Linked DNA regions of Homo sapiens: regions 2, 3, 4, 5 and 6 are each linked to region 1. The links come from fine-mapping of genetic effects on gene expression. A gene starts in region 1. Each other region holds a variant in brackets. All regions are shown on one strand. Distances are from middle to middle. Region 1 holds the start of FBXW8 (F-box and WD repeat domain containing 8). Region 2 overlaps FBXW8 (F-box and WD repeat domain containing 8). Region 3 overlaps FBXW8 (F-box and WD repeat domain containing 8). Region 4 overlaps RNFT2 (ring finger protein, transmembrane 2). Region 5 overlaps FBXW8 (F-box and WD repeat domain containing 8). Region 6 holds the start of LOC105370010 (a long non-coding RNA gene).

Region 1 (4,000 bases):
TGGGCGCCTGTTAGTCCCAGCTACTGGGGAGGCTGAGGCAGGAGAATGGCGTGAACCTAGGAGGCGGAACTTGCAGTGAGCCGAGATCGCGCCACTGCAACTCCAGCCTGGGCGACAGAGCGAGCGAGACTCCGTCTCAAAAAAAAAAAAAAAAAAAAAGAATGATTCTCAATTGGGAGGATCACTTGGGCCCAGGAGTTTGAGACCAGACTGGGCAATACAGGGAGACCTTGTCTCTACCAAAAAATTTAAAAAATTAGCTGAGTGTGGTGGCGCATGCGTGTAGTCCCAGCTACGCGGGATGCTGAGGGAAGAGGATGGCTTGAGCCAGGCAGTTTGAGGCTGCAGTGGGCCGGGAGAGCAACAGTACACTCTAGCCTGGGCAACAGAGCAAGACCCTGTCTCAGAAAAGAAAGAAAGAAAGAAAAAAAAAAAAAAACAGGAAAAAAAAAAGTGGGTTCCCAATTGTAAAGCTGTAGGGACTTCCTTTGGGCCTAATTTAAATCAAACCATTAGAACCTGGAGCCTTGTCCTCTTAACCTGGGAGCCACGGATGCATTTCAGGTGTTCTTGATTTTCCCAACTTTCTGAAGGGGATTATTTTTAACGGACACAGGGTCCCCAGCTTCCTCCAGATTCTCCAAGGTATCCACGCCCCACAAAAAGATAAGAAACTCTATCCTAATGAAAGTGCCCAGGAGATTCTTCCTCCTCTTCTTCCTTTTTTTCTGAGATAATTTTTTTGAATACGTGCACGGTTACAAAAATTAAATAGTGCAAACAGTATACAAAGGTAAAATTACTTCCTATCCATCATCTGGGTCCTCCTTTTCAAAGGCAACCTTTGTTCAAAGTTTAGGTAGCCTTCAAGAGCAGGATTTCTCAACCCCACACTTACTGATATTTTGTCCTGGATAATTTTTTTGTGCGTGGTGTCCTGTACACTGTAGGATGTTCAGGAGCATCTCTGGCCTCTACCCACTAGATGCCCAGTAACATGCACACATACACACCCCGATGAGGCACCCAAAAATGTCTGCAGACACTGCCACATCTGGGGGAACAAAATCGCCCTGGTTGGGAAGTGCTGCTTCCAGAAAGACCCCTATGCAAGCACAAACATTGGTGTTTGTGCGTCTACTCATTTTCTCGGGCAACTAGTGGCACACAGTTACTCTCCAAATCACTGCAGGGGTTTGTCCTGGGGGCGGGGGCCGGCGCAGGCATGGGCGGGGGGGAGGCGACGGCCACTCACCAGGTCGCGGATGAGCTGGTCCACCAGCTGCTCCCCGCCCCCGGCGCCCTCGCGGGCCAGAGGAGAACGTGAGCGGCTCGCTACGTCCTGCCCCTCGGCCCGAGTCGCCCGCGCCGCCGGGGGCCTCCCCGCGCCCTCCAGGAGACGCTGGGCCAGCGCCGGGTCCCCCGAGGCCTGTTCGCCGCGCCCGGAGCCCACCTCCGGCCGCCGAGCCCGCCTCTCGGCAGCCTCGGGCCGTCGCCGCTTCTTCGGCGCCTGGGCCTGCGCCAGCTCCTCCTGCCAGCGCCGACGGAACTCATCCAGGCTGTAGTCGTCCATATTCGCCGCTCCCGGCGCTCCACGTTCTCCTCGGTTCCACCGGGTGCCACGAGACAGTCCCGCCCAGGGAAGTGTCCGCCGCGGCCGGAAGCCGCTGCCGCCGCCGCTCTAGGGTTCCGGGTGGGCGTCCACGCCCCCGCCACGCCCCCGGCGCTGCCCCTGTACGCACGTGGTGGTCCGGCTTGTGGCTTGTGGCGCCCAAAGCAGAGGTTTACGCAGCTGCCCCTCAGCCCGTCAGCTCTGCTGCCTATCACTTTTGCTAAGCTCTGACTTTGCGCCAAGCATTGTTCCTTCATTCAACAAACATTCATTCAGCAACTACTATATGCCAGGCACCAAGAATTCAGCATTTAAATCTGTAAAACAAAACAAAAACTCTGACGTCTTGGAGCATGCGTTTAAGTAGGGAGACTTTAAACAAAGAAATATGAACATTTAAATCAGTGATAGGTATTAGGAAGAAAACAAAATAAGGTAAGGTAAGGGGAGTAAGGATTGATAGTGAAAGTCTGTTTAAGATGTTATTTAAATTAAAATCTAAAAGAGAATCAACAGGTGGATAAAGAAACTGATATATACATATGGTGGAATACTACTCAGCCATAAAAAAGGAATGAATTCATGGCATTCGTAGCAACCTGGATGGGATTGGAGACTATTATTCTAAGTGAAGTAACTCAGGAATGGAAAACCAAACATCGTATGTTCTCACATATAAGTGGGAGCTAAGCTACGAGGATGCAAAAGCATAAGAATGACTTATGGGACTTTGGAACAGGGGAGGGGGACGAGGGGAGGGTGGGAAGGTGGGGAGGGATAAAAGACTATAACTTGGGTTCAGTGTATACTGCTCGGGTGATGCGTGCACCAAAATCTCACAAATCACCACTAAAGAACTTACTCATGTAACCAAATACCACCTGTTCCCAATAACCTGTGGAAATAAAAATTTTTTTTTAAAAATCTGAAAGAGAAACCAGCCAAGGGAAGGTCAGATCTTAGGAGAGAGATTTCCAGAAGGAAATCCAAGGGCTTTAAGATGGGAAAGAAAATGACATACGATGGCGTTCCACTTAAAAATGTTTTCTTTGCACCTGATATTCCCTCAGCAGGGAACTTTTCCCCCCACCTTGACTTGGTTAACTCCTACACATCTTTCATATCTCAACTCACATTTCACTTAATCTTCCAACCTCCACTCAAGAAACATCAGGTATCCCTGTTACTCATTCTCACAGCATCCTGTACTTCTCATCATAATACATAACACAATTTGTAATTTTATTTTTATGTATATATATATATCCCTTCCCTTCTAGATTGGCAACTCTTAGCTTTGAGACTGGTGATTAATACATGCTCAATAAATGGTTTTTTGTTTGTTTGTTTGTTTGGTTTGTTTTGTTTTTGAGACGGAGTCTCGCTCTGTTGCCCAGGCTGGAGTGCAGTGGCGCGATCTCGGCTCGCTGGAAGCTCCGCCTCCCGGGTTCACGCCATTCTCCTGCCTCAGCCTCCTGAGTAGCTAGGACTACAGGTGCCCGCCACCACACCTGGCTAAGTTTTTGTATTTTTAGTAGAGATAGGGTTTCACCATGTTGGCCAGACTAGTCTTGAACTCCTGACCTCAAGTGATCCACCCACCTCAGCCTCCCAAAGTGCTGGGGTTACAGGTGTGAGCCACCACTCCAGGCTCAAAGATGCTCTTGCAATTAACTGTCCCTTATTCCTTGTCTAACTCTTCTTAGTCTCTCAGGCCTCTTCTCTAGAATCACTTCTGTAAATAAACTAGCTGCCTACAAACCCAGGGCTCAGGCTTGCTTACTGTGGGAAACCAGGCTTGGACAACCTTCACTGTAGAAAATTAGAGTATATGGTTGGGCGTATATTCACACCACTACACTCCAGCTTGGGCGACAGTGCGAGACTCTGTCTCAAAAAAACAAAAAAAAGAAAGAGCATCTCTGAGTTGGTCCTACTGTGGCAATTTAGGCTCATTCCATTAGCACCTTCTAAGGAGCCTTAGAACACAGCTCAGAATTGTCCTCCCAAGAGATAAGAGCCAGAAGAGGAAAGCATTTGTCCAGTGACTCTCATCCCCTACTAGAGAAAGGCTAAGCCAAGGAGCTTTAACAACCTCCCACTTCTAGATTGGGTATAAGTAAACGGATTATCATGGATGTTCCGTACCAAGGCAGCAGAGATGCTCTGGGGCAAAAAGCAGGAGGTACACTGTGCAGCTAACAGGAACGACTGTCAGGTTACACGTGCACAAAGCCAGTTGCTACAGCAGTGACTAAGGTAAAAGATGAGTGAAGTGATGCAAGATGGAACATAAGCATCCAATACAAGTAAGCATTCTCTTTTTTTTCCGTAAAGGTTTTATTATACACAGAAGGGGAAGAAGTCTCAGTTCTTCTTGGCAGCCAT
Region 2 (4,104 bases), 45 kb before region 1:
TTTTAAATTCAGGGCAAATATATACGTATTCACATTAAAGCTACTATTCATATTTTGGCATGGTATACAGTCGATAAAAAGGTCCTTTTTTAAAAAAAAATTTTTTTTGAGACAGTCTCGCTGTCACCAAGCTGGAGTGCAGTGGCATGATCCTGGCTCACTGCAACCTCTACCTCCCGGGTTCAAGTGATCCTTGTGCCTCAGCCACCCGAGTAGCTGAGATTACAGGTGTGCACCACCATGCCTGGCTAATTTTTGTATTTTTGGTAGAGAAGGGGTTTTGCCATGTTGGCCAGGCTGGTCTCAAACTCCTGACCTCAAGTGACCCACCTGCCTTGACTTCCCAAAGTGCTAGGATTACAGGCATGCCACTGTGCCCGGCTAATAACAAGGTACATTTGTAATTACTGGAAAAAGCAGAGGACAACATAGCTAAAAGCAAGGTATTTCAAGTTACCTTAGATGACTTTGTTTATTTTTTGGAGATGGAGTCTCACTCTGTTGCCCAGGCTGGGGAGCAGTGGCATGACCTCGGCTCACTGCAACCTCCACCTCCTGGGTTCTAGCGATTCTTCTGCCTCAGCCTCCCGAGTAGTTGGGATTACAGGCACGTGTCACCATGCCCAGCTAATTTTTCTATTTTTAGTAGAGACAGGGTTTCACCATGTTAGCCAGGCTGGTCTCAAACTCCTGACCCTAAGTGATCCACCCACCTTGGCCTCCCAAAGTGCTGGGAGTACAGGCATGAGCCACTGTGCCTGCCCTGTTTAAAATTATATTTTCCAATACTTCTTAATTGTAAAACAATGATAAAATTCCACTGAAGGGCCAACAGGCAAACTGAACCAACCAAAGATTCAGACACCAATTTTTACATATATAAATTTGAAGCTCCAAATTTTGCTCTCTGTCTACAAAGAACTGCAAACCCTCTCACTCTGACGCCAGGGTGTATGAATGGGGCTCAGAAAAATAAAAACATATTTGAATCAGGCCATGTCTGGCAGCTGAAGCAGCAGCCAGAGATCACTTGGTTGCTAGAGAGGTATGGGCAGTTTTGTTTTGTATCTACTTGGGCACACTTGCCTCAAAAGGAATGAAGCAAAAATGGGACAACTGAGTGTTTTTAGGGTAAGAAGAGCGCTAATGGTTTGCAGCAAATGATACAGTTCTCCTTCCAACCACACTAGGCAGAAGAGAAGCATGGATACACAGCCCTGCTCCTTCCAGCAAAGGCAGGAACGGTATGCTAAAAAGGCGGAAACCAGGGGAGAAAATATTTAGGAGTAATGAAAAAAACCTCAACACAAACAGGTTGCTTGGTGTTTTTTTTAAAACCAAAAGAGAGAAAATGTCCTCTCATATGAATAGAAAAGTGTGTTTTCTTATGCCAACTAGAATGCTTTAGCCTTATGAATCTCAAGTAACAATGAGGAGAGAGTTTATTGCAAAACACCATCATACTCCTGGGCATCTGATAAAAGCTTCTGGTGAGCTAATGGCTTAATGGTTAGCAGAGCTGGCACAAGGCCTCCAAGGAGCTACTGGTTCTACCTGAGATGCACTCTTCACTAGGTGGCTCTCCTTCACTACTTATGGCAAACGACACCTAGCCCTGCACCTCAGGTTTTATACTGTCTTTTTTGAACTCATGATGTCATCTGATTGCAACACTTAACTTCCAGAGGGCAACTGGGGAGAAGGAAGACGAGAACAGTCTAAGCATCACAAAACAGAACAGGGATGTTTCCATATGCCCCTTTCTTCTACTCTTTCTCCTCAAGGATAAACATACAATTTTCAAAACATTCTAAAATTCTAAGAGCTGTTACCACAATAAATCAAAGAAACAAACAAAAGACATGTTTCCTGAGCACTTACTATCAACTAACTTTCTAGACAAACTCTGTGCTAAAACACAAGGAAAACACACACTAAACCTCGCTAGCATTTCAGGAGGTCCAGCAGATCACAGATACAAATGCAGACAGGCGCTGAACTTTGAGAGAAAGACAGGTGACTGATTCTGTAGAGACTGGTGACTTATGAACATAAATTTTTCTCAAGTTACAGAAATGAGAAATTTTCGCTGAAAAAGCAAAGTAAAAGTTGTGTCTGAATGTCTCAGTCGCAGTTGAAGGCACGTCCACTTATCTCTCCAACAAAGAAAACAACTGGTGCAGGTCTTTTCTGCGCTGCTGCATATCCTTGCTAAGTGGTCAAGTGACAGCAGAGAAAGACAAGAACGAGGGCCAGAGAAGGCGCTCACGGAGGTAATGGAAGTCCAGAGAGTGTGGAATCGCCGAAGGGGAGTTTTCCTTTCTTACACACTTGGCTCAAAGTTTCCTGGGTCCTGGGAAAGATGTTAGACTCTGAGGGCATACAGATGCTTAATACAGGGCCCCCCCCC[C/G]CCATTTCAAGAGGGGAAAGTCAACAGCACCAAATGTTGCCAAGAGGCTGGAGAGGACGAGCCAAGAAAAGGCTATTGGTTTGTTGACCAAAAGATCACGGGTGACCTCTGAGAGTGCAGCACAGTGGGGCTGGGATGGAGCCAGCTGGAGGGAGGTTAGACGGGGAGGAAGGAAGAGGGGCAGGAGGCACGGGCTCTCACTATGTACAGCACTAACAGGAAGATGGCAGGGATGGTTTGGAGACTTCAAGTCAAAAGGTTAGATTGCAAAGAAGCTGAGGGCTACAAAAGCACTTTTAAATAATTTATTAATCTGGAAAATAAAAATTCATTCCCCTAAATCCAGTAATTCTGCTTACAGGACTCTAGCCTAGGAAAACAATCAGGATTGCAAGACTAGGAGACGATAATGAGAGAACTTTAACTCTTTATTTTATATACTTATATAGAATTTCAAGTTTCTACAGTAGCATGTGTCTAATCATTTTAAAATAAAGATTTGTAATGCTAAAAAGGAGAAAAATTTGCAGACATCTATACATAAAATATTCATAACATACATATAACAAAACACAGGAAATGACCTTAATGTCCACTATTAGGGGAATAAATAGGGAAATTGGGGTATAATTATCCAAAGTGTTTTTGCAACAAGTCAAAGAAAGTAATGAAAAATATGCAACATGAAAAAAATTCATCAGTTTGGTGAGGGAAAAGGCCACAAATCTAACAAAGGCTACAGTCACACTATGAAAAAACATGCATAGAAAAACAGACTGAAAACCAAACCAGACACATGGGAGACCTTAATAAAGGTTGTGTTCCATGCTAGAATTTGAGTGGCTTTCTCTTCTCTACTTTCTAACACGGTTGCAAAACAACATGGTTTTTACCACTGCTTTTTCTTTTTTTTTTTTTTTTTTTTTTTGAGACAGAGTCGCCCTGTCGCCCAGGCTGGAATGCAATGGTGCGATCTCAGCTCACTGCAACCTCTGCCTCCCAGGTTCAAATAATTCTCCTGCCTCAGCCTCCCAAGTAGCTAGGATTACAGGTGCCCGCCACCACGCCCAGCTAATTTTTGTATTTTTAGTAGAGATGGGGTTTCACCATGTTGGCCAGGCTGGTCTTGAACTCCTGACCTCATGATCTGCCCGCCTAGGCCTCCCAAAGTGCTGGGATTACAGGCGTGAGCCACCATGCCCGGCTGGTTTTGTTTTTCTTGTTTTTTGTTTGTTTGTTTTGTTTTGTTTTTTTGTCTTTTTTTTTTGAGATGGAGTCTTGCTCTGTCGCCCAGGCTGGAGTGCAGTGGCGCGATCTTGGCTCACTGCAAGCTCCACCTCCTGGGTTCACGCCATTCTCCTGCCTCAGCCTCCTGAGTAGCTGGGACTACAGGCACTCGCCACCATGCCCGGATAATTTTTTTGTATTTTTTAGTGGAGACAGGGTTTCACCGTGTTAGCCAGGATGGTCTCGATCTCCTGACCTTGTGATCCGCCCGCCTCGGCCTCCCAAAGTGCTGGGATTACAGGCGTGAGCCACCGCGCCCAGCCGGCTGCTTTTGTTTTTAAATAGACACATGCCACAAAAGAAAAACCAAAATGATGCTATAATAGCCAAAGCTTCAGAGCAGCAAATGAGGGCTGGAAACGGCAGCCTCACCAGCCAGCCCTGCCTGTGGATGCTGCAGAAACACA
Region 3 (4,104 bases), 58 kb before region 1:
CCACAGTCCCGGACAATGGAGCATGTGTGCGTTCAGACAGTTGCACTGGGAGTGTTGCGGAGGTGGATAAGCCACTTTGCCGTGCTTGATGGCACCATATAAAGAGGACTGCTGGCTGTCCCGTCCAGGCTTCCTCATGCTAATATGCACCAGATCGCGTCTCTCCTCTCTCTACTGAGGGGGACAAATAAAAACTTCTTTGCACCTAAGAAGTGTGTAATCTCATTTCTCACCAAAGAGCGAGATTTCAAGACAAACTCGGTGACCAGGGAGCGGGTTTCGAAGCACACTGCCATTCCCTAATGCTGTGGCACGAGGCCAAAGGCAGGCAAGCACGGAGCAGATGGAGTCCTGGCAAGGTCTCCGCCGTCCCTGCATTAGCAGCATCTGCTCATTACTCAGAACCTTCGCCTGCTTTATCTAATGCTCCAGGAAAAGCATTTTGATTTGATTCATTTCGGTATGGTAACGTGCAACACAATTAGTGGTAAAATCAAACTGGAGGATGGCCAGTGCTGACAATCGGAAACAAGGCAGAAGAAATATGAGGCCAGAGGGTTGGAATTCAAAAAATCACAACTGTGGATCACCTTGCCAAATCTCAACACCCCAGGTGCATGTACAGTGTTCCTACGGAGCAAAGAGGCTAAAAGGGATGCAGGGATGACTCCCTTTCCCCAAAGCAGGTTCCATCTCCCCCTCTGGATACGATTCCCTCCACCGAGAATGTGCGTGTAGACCAGCGAGGGCGTTTCAATGGCTACAGAGCCTCACTTTGGCACAACCAGAGAACTGAAGTTCATTAACTCATTTTATTGTCTTATTCTTCTTTTCCGTGTCACAAATTTTAGACAGCAGAACCCACAAGGTAAAATTCCTTTTTTTGTCATGTTTCTGCCTCAGAAGTGCCAGTTAGCTGCTCCTGGAAAGAAGCAATATAAAAATGTGGGTTTATTTGAATCTGTCTTTGCCCAAAAGTAGCTATTCACGAAAATGTTAGTGTAAATATCATAGTGTCGATCTGTTAAACTGAAGGGGGACCAAAGGTAACGCCACCTGACGTCTGGGGAAAGAATAGAAGTTGTTGTTTATCACAGAAACAGTAACAACCCGAATCAGACCAATGAAACAAGCTCAGCATGAGAGGGGAGCAGGGAAACACAAGGGCTCTAAAAAAGGAAGAGCCCTTAATACCAAAATGAACTTGAAACGAATCAAAGATTTCAATGGAAACACTGCAGCCTTGGAAGCACTTATAGATTTTACCCAGGCGTTGAGTAATCATCTTCCCAACCATGACGTGAAACCCCAAAGGACAAGACTGACAAGCTTGATGTAAATTTAAGCTGCCAGACAGACCAACTGAAACAGAGCACAAAGTTCAGAAACAGACCCAGATACAAAGTGAATTTCATAGCTAAAAGCTTATAAAGGCAGCACCTCAAACCAGTTAGGTAGAAATGGGCTCTCCGAGAAGAGATGCTGGAAAAAAGATGTACTTGGAACCATACTGCATGCTAATCCAAGACGAACTTGTCAAGATAAAAATATAAAAAATAAGCCATAACAGTAACAGAAGAAAAAGAAAGAACTACAAGTAGCAGGTACACATTTTTTTTTTAATTTAACCTTTCTCACATTAAGAGAAATGTAAATTAAAACTACACTTGGTGACCATTTCTTCTCAAACTGATGAATACCCAAAAGCTGGAAACATACTTTGTTGGCAAAACTGTGAGGAAGCGGGCACACTCTCATG[G/A]CTTGCTGGTAAGAGCATAAAATAGTAAAACCCCACTTGCATTTACCCTGTAACCCAGAAAACAATCCTCCTTGCACTTGTGTGAAATGTCATCTTTACAAGGTTTTTCACTACAACACTGTAACGGCAAACACAACACAACTGTCCTTCAATAAACCAAAGTGCTTATACACAATGGAATTACCATTCAGGTGTGCAAACGGGGTACTCTCTCTACACAGACATGCACTCCCTTTTAAGATATGCTATTTAGAGAAAAAAGCCAAGGTGTGGAATCATGTAAAGTAAATAGTATGCTATCTTTTGTTTTTTAAAAAGGGGGCAATAAGAATATACACACTCATATTTTCTTGTACTTGTAATACTAAAATACAAGGATATACAAGAAAGTAAAAAATATGGTTACTTCAGAATGGAGCAGACAAAAGTGGGTGGCAGCAAGATTTCTCAATATATAACTTTATATTATTTTGATCTTTGAACCCTAAAAATGTAGTAATCAAAAACATTAAATTACAAAATAACCCCACTCACTTTTAGATTAAAAAATTAACATTGTTCACACATACCAAGTACCTTCTAGAAAACAAGTCCATTAAAGAATAAATGACAAGCCAGGCGCGGTGGCTCAAGCCTGTAATCCCAGCACTTTGTGGGGGCCAAGACAGGCAGATCACTTGAGGTCAGGAGTTCGAGACCAGCCTGACCAACATGGTGAAAGCCCAGCTCTACTAAAAATATAAAAAATTAGCTGGGCGTGGTGGCAGGCGCCTGTAATCCCAGCTACTCAGGAGGCTGAGGCAGGAGAATCGCCTGACCCCAGGAGACGGAGGTTGTAGTGAGTCGAGATCGCACCACTGCACTCCAGTCTGGATGACAAAGCCAGACTCTATCTCAAAACAAACAAAAAAGAATAAGTGACTTACGGAAAAAATATCGGAAACACATATGGCAAGGATTATTTCCCAAGCTTTCTTTTCAACCAGAAAAGATGACAACCCAAAAGAAAAATGAAGAAAGACAGGAACAAACAATTTGCAGAGAAAGAAATAGAAACAGCTAACAACACACAAAGAAAAGATGTCCACATGTAATTAAAGAAAGGCAAACAAAGACAATAAAATGCCATTTTTACCTGTCAGTCACTCTCACATACTTTTGGTGACACTATAAACTGGTGAAACCTTTTTGGAGGGCAATTTGGCAATAGTTATCAAAGCCTAAAGCAGCCAAAGCCTGCAGCCATAGCCTCCAACCTAGCAATCACTAGCACCTCACCCCAGGGCCACCCTTGGACAAGTCCATCCTGGCATTTGTTCAAGTATATTGCTTGCAGCACTGTTTTCAATAACAAAAATGAACAACTCAAATGTGTATCAATGAGGACCCTAATAAATAAATGATGGTACAGCCACATAATGCAGTACTACACAGGCATTAAAAAGAATAAGGTTTACCCTGTAAGTGTGAACACGGAAGATCACCAAGATGTGCCATTAGGTTATTAAAAAAAAAAAAAAAGGTGCAGAGAAGTATACAGAGCAGGACCCCCCACGAGTAAAATGCGAGAGGGCCTGGAAGTGGGACAGGGAGGAATACCTCGACTTCTTTTTGCATACTTTTTCTTTGTCATTTTATATACATTTTTGCTCTGTTTGAATTCTAACTATGACTTTAAAAAAAAAAAGAATTTAAAATACATTTTGGCAATCACTTGCGAAGCATTTTACCAAAGAAAGCAGATTCTTAGCCTGGCCAACATGGTGAAACCCCGTCTCTAGTAAAAATACAAAAATTAGTTGGTTGTTGTGGTGGGCACTCATAATCCCAGCTACTCGGGAGGCTGAGGCAGGAAGGAGAATCACTTGAACCCGGGAGGCAGAGGTTGCAGTGAGCCGAGATGGTGCCACTGCACTCCAGCCTGGGTGGCACAGCAAAACCCTGTCTCAAAAAAAAAAAGTAGATTCTTTATCATGCCTACATTGTTTCCCAACATTTCTGTGCAACAACAGGGGATGAGGGCAATGAAGACAATTCTCACAATATAAAACCAGCAGCAGCACCCCTGCACATCACCTCAAGCTGTATTTTCAAGCTCACGAGATGTGAGACATGGGCTGCAAATCAATTGGGCGCACATTTCTACAAGAGTCTTTATGTTCAGGATTCCACAAACAGCACGACCACCGCAGCACGGCCCTGGAGACACAATCACAGTTCTGGATTCACTGCTGACTTCAACCTACCTGGCTTCTTTGCACCTCTGTTTCCCCATCTGTAGAAGAATATGTGTGTGCATGTTCGTGTGTGTGAATGGTAGGGAAAGGCTATTAGATGATCCTAAA
Region 4 (4,104 bases), 56 kb after region 1:
GCTGGGAGGGTATCTGGAGAACCTTAGTGAGGCCTCTGGCCTAGCCAGAGAGGCAATAAGCTTGGGGACGTTCCGTTCTGGGTTCTGACGTTGTTGGTTCTGACGTCGTTGTGCTCTTTTGTAAGAGGAATTTCATACCTTGGAGACGCTTTGTACATATTTGTAATGACTTTATTAAAAAACTGATTGTGCACTTCTAGCCAAAGACATTTGTGTTTTCATTTCCTTTTGGAAGGCTGGCCCTCATAGACTCTGGGAGTACCCAGCTGCATAACAGGGACAGGATCCCTGCCCCTGGCTCCTGCCTGCCCCAATGTTCCCTTGGGCAGAAGGCCAGACACTTCCTTCTCTCCTCTAATTCCTAAGATCCACCGCCCCGCCCAAACCCTGAAGGGAAGGACTGGCCTAAAGAATGCCCTTGGGTTGGGCCACAGGTTTGGGAAACTTGCCCAACAGTTCGAGGTGAGTGCACACAACCATAATTTATGCATGGTATCCTGTGGACAAGCCAATGAGGCTGCAGATTAATGTCTCCAACTGCGGACAACTCGGGTTCTAGTCTCATCCTAAGAATGGGAGTTTGAGTACACATACCTTTTTTTTTGGAGACAGAGTTTCTCCCTTGTTGCCCAGGTTGGAGTGCAGTGGCACGATATTGGTTCACTGCAACCTCTGCTTCCTGGGTTCAAGCTGTTCTCCTGCCTCAGCCTCCTGAGTAGCTGGGATTACAAGCGTGTGTCACCACGTCTGGCTAACTTTTGTATTTTTAGTAAAGACGGGGTTTCACCATGTTGGCCAGACTGGTCTCGAACTCCTGACCTCGGGTGATCCACCTGCCTCGGCCTCCCAAAGTGTTGGGATTACAGGCGTGAGCCACCGCGCCTGGCCCAGGTTGTTTTTTTAGATACCAGACCTTCTCTTTTCCTTTGAACACCCATCCCTGCCCCACTTTCAGTCTACATGACTTAGAGGGGCCGACTCCATCCTCTCACTACCTCAAGAGCTCAACAGCTGGCCCAGGCCTGGCCAGTGCTCCACATCTCACCAGCTAAAGTAATTGGTTTGGGACAAACAAATGAGAGTCAGTCTTAGGACTTTTGGTGGAGCTTTCGGGATGCAGGGGTTGTTAAGCTGCTAGAACATAAACGCAGAACTGCTGCGGGCCATCTTACCACCACATGGGTCCAGCTGCCTGAAAATCAAACTGTCTCAGAGGAAAACAGAATTGAGGGATGGCCAAGACACAATTCTCTCTCTCTCTCTCTCTTTTTTTTTTTTTTTTTACAGAGATAGGGTCTCACTCTGTCACCCAGGCTGGAATGCAGTGGTGCTATCTCAGCTCACTGCAACCTCTGCCTCCAGGTTTAAGCGATTCCTGTGCTTCAGCCTCCTGAGTAGCTGGGATTACAGGTGTGGGCCACCACGCCTGGCTAGTTGTTGTGTGTGTGTGTGTGTGTGTGTGTGTGTGTGTGTGTGTGTGTGTGTGTGTGTGTGTTTAGTAGAGAGGGGATCAGGCTGGTCTCCAACTCCTGACCTCAAGTGATCTGCCTGCTTCAGCCTCCCAAAGTGCTGGGATTACAGGCGTGAGCCACTGCGCCTGACCGAGAGACACAATTCTATATCAACACTGGGAGTCTCTGAATCCAGCTGTGCCTGAAGCCCATACAGTTACGTAAACCAAATAAAGTCTTTATTTTACTTAAGCCATATTTGAATTGGTTTTCTTTTTTTTTTTCTTTTTTGAGACAGGGTCTAGCTCTGTTGCCCAGGCTGGAGTGCAGTGGTGTGATCACGGCTCACTGCAGCCTCCACCTCCTGGGCTCAAGCGATCCTCCCACCTCGGAGTAGCTGGGACCACAGGCGCATATCACCATGCCTGGCTAATTTTT[T/A]AATTTTTTTTGTAGAGATGGGGGTCTCGCTATGTTGCCCAGGCTGTCCTCAAATTCCTGGGCTCAAGCGATCCTCCCACTTTGGCCTTCCAAAATGCTGTGATTACAGGAGTGAGCCACCACGCCCAGCCTTGATGGCAACCCAAAAGTTTGGCCTGATGCGATGTTTTCATGGCTGGTGTCATAATGTTGCCCTGAGAGGCATGTACTGTCACCTCGTGCTATTAATCTACATTTAAATATCTATCATAATCTGGCGCCCTGGAAAACCCTTCTTGAATCAGCCTATACATTTTTGGTCCGCAAAACCTCCAGTTAGCCCCTGTAGTGGGCACTGTAAGTGCCCCACAGAGGCCCTTTCTGATCCCTTTTGCCAGATTCCTATCCTGCACTTTCGTGTGCTTTGCTGGTATCTGGGGCCTTCAGAGGCTTCCCCTTGGAGCCTCTTAGGGGAGAGTCTGAAGTGCAGGAAGTCCCCCCATCAGCCCAGTGCCAAGTATCAATTGGTGTGTATTTTGTGGGATGGGACAAACTCTGAGATGAAACTTATGCTCCTGAGCTCCCTGGGGGATCCGGCTAAGACTGAGAGTTCGCCAGAGCTTGGCTTCTTTCCCTTCCCTGTTCTATTTCACTCATGATTCCCTTACTGGTTTCTCGTGGGAGCACTGCTGTAATAAATCACATGCACCTGAACAGGATCTGCTTTAGGAGAAACCAACATAAGACAACCACCCACTCCGCGAAGGGCTTCTTCTCCTTTGATCTAAGACAGTTGCACTTGGCTTCAAGAGGTGAAAGGAAAATCAAGACCACAAACACAAGTTGCACCAACAGATGGTATTTATTGGCTGAAGGGTACTTTGGGAGACATTAAAACACCAAAGGCAGCTGTTTGTCCTACAGCAGAAGTCCTAAAAGATTCCAGGACCCACTTTATTTACCTCTCTTTCTTCTAATCCCGAGTCTCAGCAGCCCGGATGTCTTCCTAACACTCTGCACATCATTCTTCTCTTCCGAAGCTGATGCACCTATCATATCTGTGTCCAAAGCTTGCCTTTCTTATTCCCTCACATTTATTATTCTCAAGATATTTTACATGAAGAGGTCCATTTCTAAGGACTTCGTGGAACTTGAGTCAGTGAATCATAAAATAATAAGGGCAGGATACTGTGAACCTGATACTCGATTAACCCTACTTACAACAAATGAGTTGCAGAACCAAGATACATAAAAGAGAGTGGCATTGTTCTTTTCCAACGGGGACTCCTGGCTGCTTTCGCACTGGTATAGGGGAATTCATGTAGCCTGTGTTGGAAACACTCCTCATCAGACACTGTTTTCCCTAGGACAGAAGTTAAATCCCCCCACCGAGAAGAAAACCTCAGATGGGACGTTCCCCCAGAGGGTAGGGCATGCACTAATAAAATCCTAAACTAAACCATCCCATCTGCCCCTGTGTGTCCCCCACATGTTACATTCTTTACAGTGTTAACAGGCATGGCTCACTCTTTGCAGTGTTAGAGAATTTTGTTTTATTGTTTTGGTGGCATGGGCATAATTGGAGAAACCATTGGGGTATTCACTAGTAACCTACATTGTTAGTTTCCTTGGTTCCAGCAGGTAATACACTGGGTTCCGTCACCCTGGAGATGGCTACAGGGAGGCTGAGTGACTTCCCAAAGTAATAAAGAGTTTGGAATCAGAATTCCAGGTCTGACTCCCAGCAGACTGTTCTATTTCCTTACACACCTGCACTTTCATCAATCTTCTCCAGCTCCAATTTCTTGTGCCCCTTCAACAGCATCTGCAGGCAGGATGATCTTTCCGATAAAAACCAGTTGCAGAAGTTCCTGTTGCTTCCCTTTGGTTTTTCCTCAGGGTAGGGAGAACAGAGCAGCTGCATTCACATGGCCCCATTTCCCTCTGCTTCCCCTTCCCACTTGATTATTCAGGCAAGTGGGATTGTAACATCATGGCCATCGCCATAGTAACGGAGCTTGAAAGATGCTACACTGCCCTGGAACAGACGTCTTGCTGGGTACCAGGAGAGAGCCAGGGATGCCAAGCCAAGGGGAAAGTCCTGGTTTGGTGGCACACAGGGGCAAATGTCCTGAATCTACGGCGGGGCAGGGGGAAGGGGACATGTTAATACTGGCTGACAGCGAGGTGGCTACAAAGCTCCTCCATTTCTCCTGGGGCTTGCATGGTAATCTGC
Region 5 (4,104 bases), 69 kb before region 1:
GCCAAAACTCTTTGTTATTTTAGAGGTTGCTTTTGGATTTTAACATAAGTCTTTATCACAGTCTACCTGCAAGTAATAGTGTATCATTTCACATGTTATATAAGAACTTTAGGCTGGGTGTGGTGGCTCATGCCTGTAATCCCAGCACTTTGGGAGGCTGCGGTGGGCGTATCACTTGAGGTCAGGAGTTTGAGACCAGTCTGGCCAACAAAGTGAAACCCCGTCTCTAGTAAAAATACAAAAATTAGCCAGTCATTGTGGTGGGCACCTGTAATCCCAGATACTCAGGAGGCTGACGCATGAGAATTGCTTGAACCTGGGAGGCGGAGGTTGCAGTGAGCCAAGATAGTGCCACTGCACTCCAGCCTGGGTGACGGAGTGAGACTCTGTCTCAATTAAAAAAAAAAAAAAGAACTTCACAGCAGCATACTTCCATTTCTTCCCTTCCAGCCTTTGTGCTATTACTGTCATACTTTTTATTTCTACATATGTTACAAACTTTTTATTTGTACATCTTGTAAACCTTAAATACATTGTTATTACTTTTGCATAAGCAGGCAATTATCTTTTAAAGATATTTAAATAATAAAAAAGCCATTTCTATTTATCCATGTAATTACCACTTCTAGTTCTTTCACTGTCACTTTCAACATCACAAAGTCCTGCAGCTTCTGCAAGGTTTGCAATTTCCCTTTGAACTGTATTGTTGGATATCTGCCCCAAAAGCATATGGGCAGAGTGGGCAGGAATAGATACAGAAGCTAACAGGGAGGGGTGTTTGAGTGAAAGCTAATTTTATAAATGGTCAATTTATCAGTTACTACAGTTATATCATGGCTACTTTTATAATCTCAAAACTGCAAGGACTTGAATAGTGAATAACTGAATTACAAGAATGCTCTATAATAGTGTGGCTGATTATCATCAGCTACATTTAGCCAAAAAGGAATCAATGCAATAATACATTCAACAGGTAGTTACAGAGCTCCCTGTTTTGTACCAAGGCACTATTCTAGGGACTGGGGATATCACAGTGAATAAGACAAAATAAAACAAAAAAAGTCCCTGACTGATCGAGCCAACATTTTAGTGACATATAAGAATTGAAAGGATACCTGTTTTCATAAAACACACACTGGAGAGAAACAAATATTTAATAACTAAAATATAAAACACAATGATCACAGAGAGATATACACAAAGCACAATGGAACAATGAATAAGCTTAACTTTTGGTCATGCTGTCACACTATTTTAAGACCCCAGAAAAGGAGCAGCAAACTTTTCTAGATGTTTTAACTTGAACCAAGTCTGCATTTATTGCATAACTACTAAGGAAGAAGTAGTTAATGCCTGTCAGGGTCAAGGAAATTCACTTCTCAAATAGGTATTTTTTTTTAAATCTGATATAAATTCATTTGAAAGGTCAAGTGTTATCATACTGCGGACCTAGCAATGAAATGGATTTGGCTCCTGACACTGTGAACTTGTGAAATGGCAAGACTGTGTCCTTTTCCCTCTCTATGCCCTATGGTAAGGAATTCACAGTGCTGGATGTGGCTGTACATCAATAAAGGTTTGCTTAATGCTTGTCATATGTTTCAGCAATGGAACATTTGGTTGTAAGAAACAGACACCCACTGAAACTGGCTTAAACATAAAAAGGAAACTGACTGGAAAGGAATGAGGCTACTTCATGGAGCCCAAGGGCAGGAAGTACAGCTGGAGGTGATAAGGGATCAGAACCAGGAACCAGGAAGACATGCAGAACCAAGGTAGTGTATGTAACTTGTGTGCACCACAGATCTTATCTCTGCTTCTCTCTGCAATTCTATTTCATTCTTCTTTTCGGAAACCAGCTTTCTCTCATCCCTGGGTACATGGAGAAAGGTGGCTGTCCCCATTCCAGGAGGTCTTCTACTCCAAGAATGCAACAAAGTTTGAGTCCCAACCAGCCCATCCCAGTCCATGAATCAGCTTCCCCCAAGAACTGGGGCCCCATCCCTCATCCAATTAGCTGAGGCCAAAAGACTAACTCAAATACTATGAACATGCCCACCTGGAGAGGGCCTGGGGAGGGACCTCAGGGCAAGGAGACAACCCCCTGCCCAAAGATCTCTACGACTTCTCTCCTGCACAGTAGGCCAAGGTAAAACAAGAGAAAAAGTCTCAGCAAACACAAAGGGAGGTTCTACTTGGTTTCTTGGCAGTGGCATAAGAAGCAAGTGTTTTTTTTTTTTTTTTTTTGCCATTCCCTGCACCAGGCATCATCCTGAAGGCCAGAGTTTATAGCCCCC[A/G]TTTTGCCCCACACTAGAGAAACAGAAAGAGCAGGTGTTTTTCTTCCTTCCTGACCAAACCTCAATAGCTGGATAAAAGATGATTAATTCTGAGTAGTGCTGGGATTGCAACAATACTGTTTCACTCATAACAAACAGGAAAAGGATGCAGACAAAAGAAGAAACTGGGTCTCTTGAAACATCCAGAAGACAAGTGAGGACCACTGGCCCAATAAAGGAGAAGGGGCAGGGCCTGGCACTCCCACCTGCTCCCTGGGCTCAGGACCCTCCACCTTGACAAGCAGCAGCCAGGCTGAAGGAACTCTGAGCTCAGCCTAGACCAGTAACAGCCATTAACGATGACATGAGTAACGATGGCCAGTCTTTCGAGGAGACATAAAGCCTGCTCAGCAGCTGTGGATGGGCACCCATGCCAGTTTGCAGCAGGCCCCTCCCACCTCCCTAAGGAGGCCAGCCAGAGTGTGGTAATGAAACTGCACATAGTGGAAATGGGATCTAAATGAGTTTAAACTGATTTATGTTAGCTTTTGTAAAGATTACTCGATATCTGGAAAGTGCTACCACTGTGAAATAATGTCGACAATCCTTAAGACCTCTGTCTAATGGTACTTGCACAGAATATTTATATTCTTCGTCATGGGAACAAGGACCATAATGGATACCATTTTTGTTTTATTAGGGATGCATATTTAAATTAATCTGCTATTTGCCTAAACAATTAGCTGCTTCTGTTTGTGTGCACAAAGCCAAAATTGCAATTAAGCTTCCATCAAAAAGATAAGTCCCAACTAAAACTGTCCCGGTGGAGTCATAAGAGCTCAGGGCAGAACTTTCCAAAATTACTTTTTAGCATAATGGTAATTATGTTAATTGCCTGAAAGGTAAATAACTGCTGAACTGGTTTTGGAAAAAAAACACAATTGGTATACTCTTCCCTCCCCTTTGATCTTTTCCATGCACCACAAAATTTAAAACAGGTTAACAGTTTCGAAAGGTCATAGACTAGTCCCTTCTTCAACTACAGAGCTGGTCTTGTGGTCTTTAGTGGTTTCTTGATTAGAAATTATTTCAGCCGCGAGCTCCCATCCTCTTGAGCTTCCACAATAAACACCTGAAGCTTGGTGTCAACTTCATGATCGTTAAATAGACAGGATCAATTAACTGCGTTCAGAGATACTGAATGAAGTTGACTATTTATAATAAAGACAGCTGGCAATCTCAATTTCTACCATGTAAATAAACACTTGCCTATCAGAAATTAATCAGGAGTCAAAAGAAATTCTGCAACAAAGGAAAAGGCATTTTGACAAAAATTTTAAATATACCCATAGCACTGACTTAACACGTACCTCTTTGTTCATTAAGTCCACACATCACCACTCTGAAATGCAGGCCAGAGACATAAAACTAGCATAAAGTTGGACAGGACAAAAGTTTTTGCTCTTCATGGAAGAGGTGCCGGTGGGAGATTAGTATCAGTGTAGACAAGGGTCATAAAGAACAGCTAAACCACGGAGGGTCACGAAAAAGGAAAAAGGCTGAAGTTTCTTGTTACTGCAGCTACTGTGGCATGCCATCCTGCTTTCCCGCTGACCACAGCGCTACAGCTCTGTTGCCTAAGGCAGAAAATAAACAGAAAACATTCTGGAATCTGCATTTTAGATTGACAAGTAAAAGAATCTGAATAGGCTTATGGAGGAGGCGACTGGTTAGGGCATAAACAAAGCAGCGAGATCACCAAAATAGAAACTGAGTCAAGAGAAGAGGAAGTAAGATTGAATATATTTAGTAGCTCTCAAATTCAAAG
Region 6 (4,104 bases), 210 kb before region 1:
GCAGTGGCGCGATCTTGGCTCACTGCAAACTCCGCCTCCCGGGTTCAAGCCATTCTCCTGTCTCAGCCTTTCGAGTAGCTGGGATTACAAGTGCCCACCACCATGCCTGGCAAGTTTTTATATTTTTAGTAGAGACGGGGTTTCACCATGTTAGCCAGGCTGGTCTCGAACTCCTGACCTCAAGTGATCCACCTGCCTTGGTCTCCCAAAGTGCCGGGATTATAGGCGTGAGCCACCGCGCCCAGCCTCCCCTGCCTTCTGAGCAGGATGCACCCCTCTGTCGATTGCATCACATTGGAGCTCCTCCTCTTACATTGTCTGGTAGGGGCCTGGCAAGGAAGTGTTAACACGAGAAATGGAGATCTCCTATTCCTGACTCCCTCCTGGAACCAGCACGTCACTCCAGGCCCCCAGAGGCATTGGCCCTCCTGTGAATTCAACCAAGCGTGGTGTCCCATAGCAAATATGGAAAACGCCTGGAAAAAGCCACCAGATGGTGCTTCTCCATGCCAAGTGAGTGGCTCCACAATGACTAGGGGTGGGTGGGTGGTGAGGGGGAGGAGAAGAAACATCAGGTTCAGCAGTTACCCTGCTGGAACACCTGCTCGGGGAGGACATCAGAAGAACCTCAACGTCCATCAGTGGGGTAAGGGGACATTTATGCACATAAACAACCAGCTCAAGTCACCAGGGAATCTGTGCCAAAGATGAAGTTTTGAGAAGTCCCCAAGGTGACCTGGAGGGAGACGTGAGCGACCGCAGCCCTGGCACATCTTGGAGAGGTCAGCTGGTCTTGGAGGGGGCCTGCCTTATCCAGGAAGCTGATGGGACTCACCCCAATGTGGCCAGAGAAAAAAATGGGAGAGGGTGCCTTTATAAAAGCTCACGTCCTTTTTTTTTTTTTTTTTTTTTTTTGAGACAGAGTCTCGCTGTGTCGCCCAGGCTGGAGTGCAGTGGTGCGATCTCAGCTCACTGCAGCCCCTGCCTCTCGGGTTCAGCTATTCTCATGCCCCAGCCTCCCGAATAGCTGGGATTACAAGCACAGGGTACCACACCCAGCTACATTTTGTATTTTTAGTAGAGACAGGGTCTCTATGTTGCCTAGGCTGGTCTCGAACTCCTGGCCTCAAGTGATCCACTTGTGTCTGCCTCCCAAAGTGCTGGGATTACAGGTGTGAGCCACTGCGGCTGGCCTAAAAGCTCATGTCCTTTAATTGTCATACTACTCTACAGGGTAGATGCTGTTACTATAAACCCATTTTATTGATGAAGAAACTGAGGCTCAGTGAGGGGGCACTGAGCTGCCCAAGGTCTCAAGATGTTGGAGGAGGATGGTGGAGGAGGGTGGCTCCCCCAGCAGTGTCCAGGGAGTGATTTTCCTGCTGGTCACAGGTTCCCACAGGTGAGAAGCCCCGCTAGTCTTGATTGTGCCTGATCCCTCCTCATGCTCTAGGGGGCAGCAGAGTTTTATAATTTACCGTGAGATTCCCAGTGGAATAGACTAGGGTTCAAGTCCTGCTTTGGCTACCAACAGGGCGGGTGAATGAGGCCAGTCATTTAACCTGAGGGCAGGAGTCTCTGTTTCCTGTGGATAAAATGGAGATAAAGGTCTCTCCTGGACAAGTGCTTCCTAAGGACATCAGTAGCAACAGTAAGATAGTGGCAGACACCCAGGCGGCTGCTGGCTTGTGCTGTTCTAAGCACTTGGTGTGTTTCAGTT[C/T]TTTTCTTCTTTGCTACAGCCCAGGGCTGTCGCAACTCTCATTGCCCTGGTTTTGTAGATGCAGTCAAAGAGGCAAGGAGAAGCAAAGCGACTTTCCCAAGCTCACACAGGAAGTGGCAGAGCCAGGATTTGAATCCAGGTCGTCCAGCTGCTCTGGAACTGCCTGTGAAACTGCTTGGCACTTAGCGCACAGCTGGGCCAGCAGCACCCATGGATGGAAGCGTCCGTTCCTGAGATCATAACATTTACAGGGCTCCCCGGGAGCGAGGTGTGCCTACCACTGAGGCCCTTGGAACATCTTGCATAAAAGAAAGAAGTTCTTAGCCAGCAGCCCTGCACACTACCAGTTTCTAAGTTATTTATAAAGAGCTTGTTGAAGTCGAGAGACTTCTAACAGGCGGAGGTGTGTTCTTGAGACTAAGAATAGTGGCTGAGGCCTGACAGGAGGCGCTTTCTGGTGACATCAGAGCATCCCAGCCTTGCTTCCAGCCAGCAGCAGCAGCAGCTTGGAGGGAGTGTGAGTTTTCTCCTGGCTCAGCCACAGCTGCCGGTTCACCCCGGTTCACTGAGGTGGCCCACCCTGGTTCCTCCAGAGAGGGCGGCACTCAGCCTGGACGCTGAGGCAGGCGTGGGACAGGGATGGGTGACCCCCAACGAGCAGGCTTTAGCTGGAGTCTAGAGGTCTCTAATCTGCCACTTCCACCTCCCACTATTTGCTGAAGGGTGGCCATCTGGCCTTAACAATAGGATGGGGACAAAGAGCAGAGGCCCACAGGGGAGGGGCTGCGAAGTCCCTGAGCGGCCCTTGGATTTAGATCCCTTTCCCAGCAGTGGGGGGCAGAGTATTTTGCCATCCTGCTCACCCCAACCTCACCATCACCTGGGGGTTTCTAACAGGTACTGACCCCAGAGTCCCCAACCCTTCCTGCGACACCAGAGGCTCCAGGGGAATGTTATGCACATCACAGTTTTAGAACTCTAGAACTCTTTGTTTTTTTTTTTTAGATGAAGTTTCACTCTTGACGCCCAGGCTGGAGTGCAGTGGTGCGATCTCGGCTCATTGCAACCTCCTCCTCCTGGGTTCAAGTGATTCCCCTGCCTCAGCCTACTGAGTAGCTGGGATTACAGGCATGTGCCACCACATCCAGCTAATTGTATTTTTAGCAGAGACTGGGTTTCACCATGTTGGCCAGGCTAGTCTCAAACTCCTGACCTCAGGTGATCCATGTGCCTCGGCCTCCCAAAGTGCTGGAATTACAGGCGTGAGCCACCGCGCCTGGCCTAGAACTCTTGTAATCTACAAGAAGGAGAATTTCAACCCAGAACTTGCCCAAAATCCCAACAGGTGACCACTGGCTTTTTTCTGGACTGGAAATAAATTATGGGGATAGAGGGCAAAGATTAAGTCAAGCCAAGGTTAAATCGTGGTCCCTACCAGGAGCTGTGAGCTTTTAGTGGAGATATTAGAGAGATGTGGGGTGGGGGGTGAGGGAAGAAGGAAAGGGTAACAGTTTAAATGGGTAACTTAAAACGCTGTTTCAAATTTGTATAGCCATTGTGGAAAACAGTGTGGAGGTTCCTCAAAAAATTAAAAATAGAACTATCATAGGATCCAGCAATTCCACTTCTGGGCATCTACCCAAAGGAAATGAAATCAGTTTCTTGAATGGATAGCTACACTTCCATGTTGATTGCAACATCATTCATAGTAGCCAAGATAAACAACCTAAGTGTCCATCGACAGATGAATGGATAAAGAAAATGTGAAACGCACACATAGGAATATTATTCAGCCTTCAAAAAGAGGGAGATCCTTGGCCAGGTACAGTGGTCATGCCTGTAATCCCAGCACTTTGGGAGGCTGAGGCAGGTGGATCACCTGTGGTCAGGAGTTTGAGACCAGCCTGGCCAACATGGCAAAACCCCATCTCTACTAAAAATACAAAAATTAGCTGGGCATAGTGGCGCATGCCTGTAGTCCCAGCTACTCGGAAGGCTGAGGCAGGAGAATTGCTTGAACCTGGGAGGCGGAGGTGGCAGTGAGCCGAGATTGTGCCACTGCAGCCTGGGGGGCAGAGCGAGACTCTGTCTCCAAAAAAAAAAAAAAAAAAAAAAAAAGAGGGAGATCCTGCCATTTTCAAAACTGTGGCTGAACCTGGAGGATATTTTTCTAACTGAAATCAGGCAGACATAGAAACACAAACACTGCATTACCTCACTTATGTGTGGAATCTAAGCAAGTCCAACTCATAGAAGCAGACAGTAGAATGTTGGTTACCAGGGGCTGGGGCAGGGGGAGAGGAGAGATATTGGTCAAAGGATACAAACCTTCAGCATAATATGAATAAGTGCTAGAGACCTAGTGATCACAGTAGCATGGCGGA

The links. PIP is the estimated chance that this variant, and not a neighbour inherited with it, causes the effect.
Region 2: its variant is fine-mapped to the expression of FBXW8 in monocytes after R848 (Quach 2016, PIP 0.95).
Region 3: its variant is fine-mapped to the expression of FBXW8 in lung (TOPMed, PIP above 0.99). The same link has a PIP of 0.9 or more in tibial artery.
Region 4: its variant is fine-mapped to the expression of FBXW8 in whole blood (INTERVAL, PIP above 0.99).
Region 5: its variant is fine-mapped to the expression of FBXW8 in aorta (GTEx, PIP 0.98). The same link has a PIP of 0.9 or more in fibroblasts.
Region 6: its variant is fine-mapped to the expression of FBXW8 in whole blood (INTERVAL, PIP 0.97).

What each region holds. Positions count from the first base shown.
Region 1 is chr12:116,908,611-116,912,610 of GRCh38, reverse strand. FBXW8 (F-box and WD repeat domain containing 8) reads right to left here and starts at 1,661. Exons shown (of 11, transcript NM_153348.3): 1 at 1,256-1,661. The coding sequence starts at 1,573. It also overlaps the pseudogene RPL36P15. RefSeq lists silencers at 1,194-1,453, 1,614-1,833.
Region 2 is chr12:116,953,346-116,957,449 of GRCh38, reverse strand. The region is part of intron 4 of FBXW8 (F-box and WD repeat domain containing 8); the gene reads right to left. Among named protein-coding and RNA genes, the nearest start is that of FBXW8, 44 kb to the right of the region's middle. The variant C/G (reference allele first, on the strand shown) is at 2,411.
Region 3 is chr12:116,966,336-116,970,439 of GRCh38, reverse strand. The region is part of intron 5 of FBXW8 (F-box and WD repeat domain containing 8); the gene reads right to left. Among named protein-coding and RNA genes, the nearest start is that of FBXW8, 57 kb to the right of the region's middle. The variant G/A (reference allele first, on the strand shown) is at 1,760.
Region 4 is chr12:116,852,239-116,856,342 of GRCh38, reverse strand. RNFT2 (ring finger protein, transmembrane 2) reads right to left here. Exons shown (of 11, transcript NM_001382266.1): 11 at 2,712-4,104. HRK (harakiri, BCL2 interacting protein) reads left to right here. Exons shown (of 2, transcript NM_003806.4): 2 at 1-199. Among named protein-coding and RNA genes, the nearest start is that of HRK, 27 kb to the left of the region's middle. The variant T/A (reference allele first, on the strand shown) is at 1,890.
Region 5 is chr12:116,977,921-116,982,024 of GRCh38, reverse strand. The region is part of intron 5 of FBXW8 (F-box and WD repeat domain containing 8); the gene reads right to left. LOC100506551 (a long non-coding RNA gene) reads left to right here. Exons shown (of 4, transcript NR_103809.1): 3 at 1,606-1,775; 4 at 2,436-4,104. Among named protein-coding and RNA genes, the nearest start is that of FBXW8, 69 kb to the right of the region's middle. The variant A/G (reference allele first, on the strand shown) is at 2,298.
Region 6 is chr12:117,117,259-117,121,362 of GRCh38, reverse strand. The region is part of intron 2 of TESC-AS1 (TESC antisense RNA 1); the gene reads right to left. It overlaps LOC105370010 (a long non-coding RNA gene), which reads left to right and starts at 326. Exons shown (of 4, transcript XR_945398.3): 1 at 326-513. RefSeq lists an enhancer at 2,276-2,870. The variant C/T (reference allele first, on the strand shown) is at 1,721.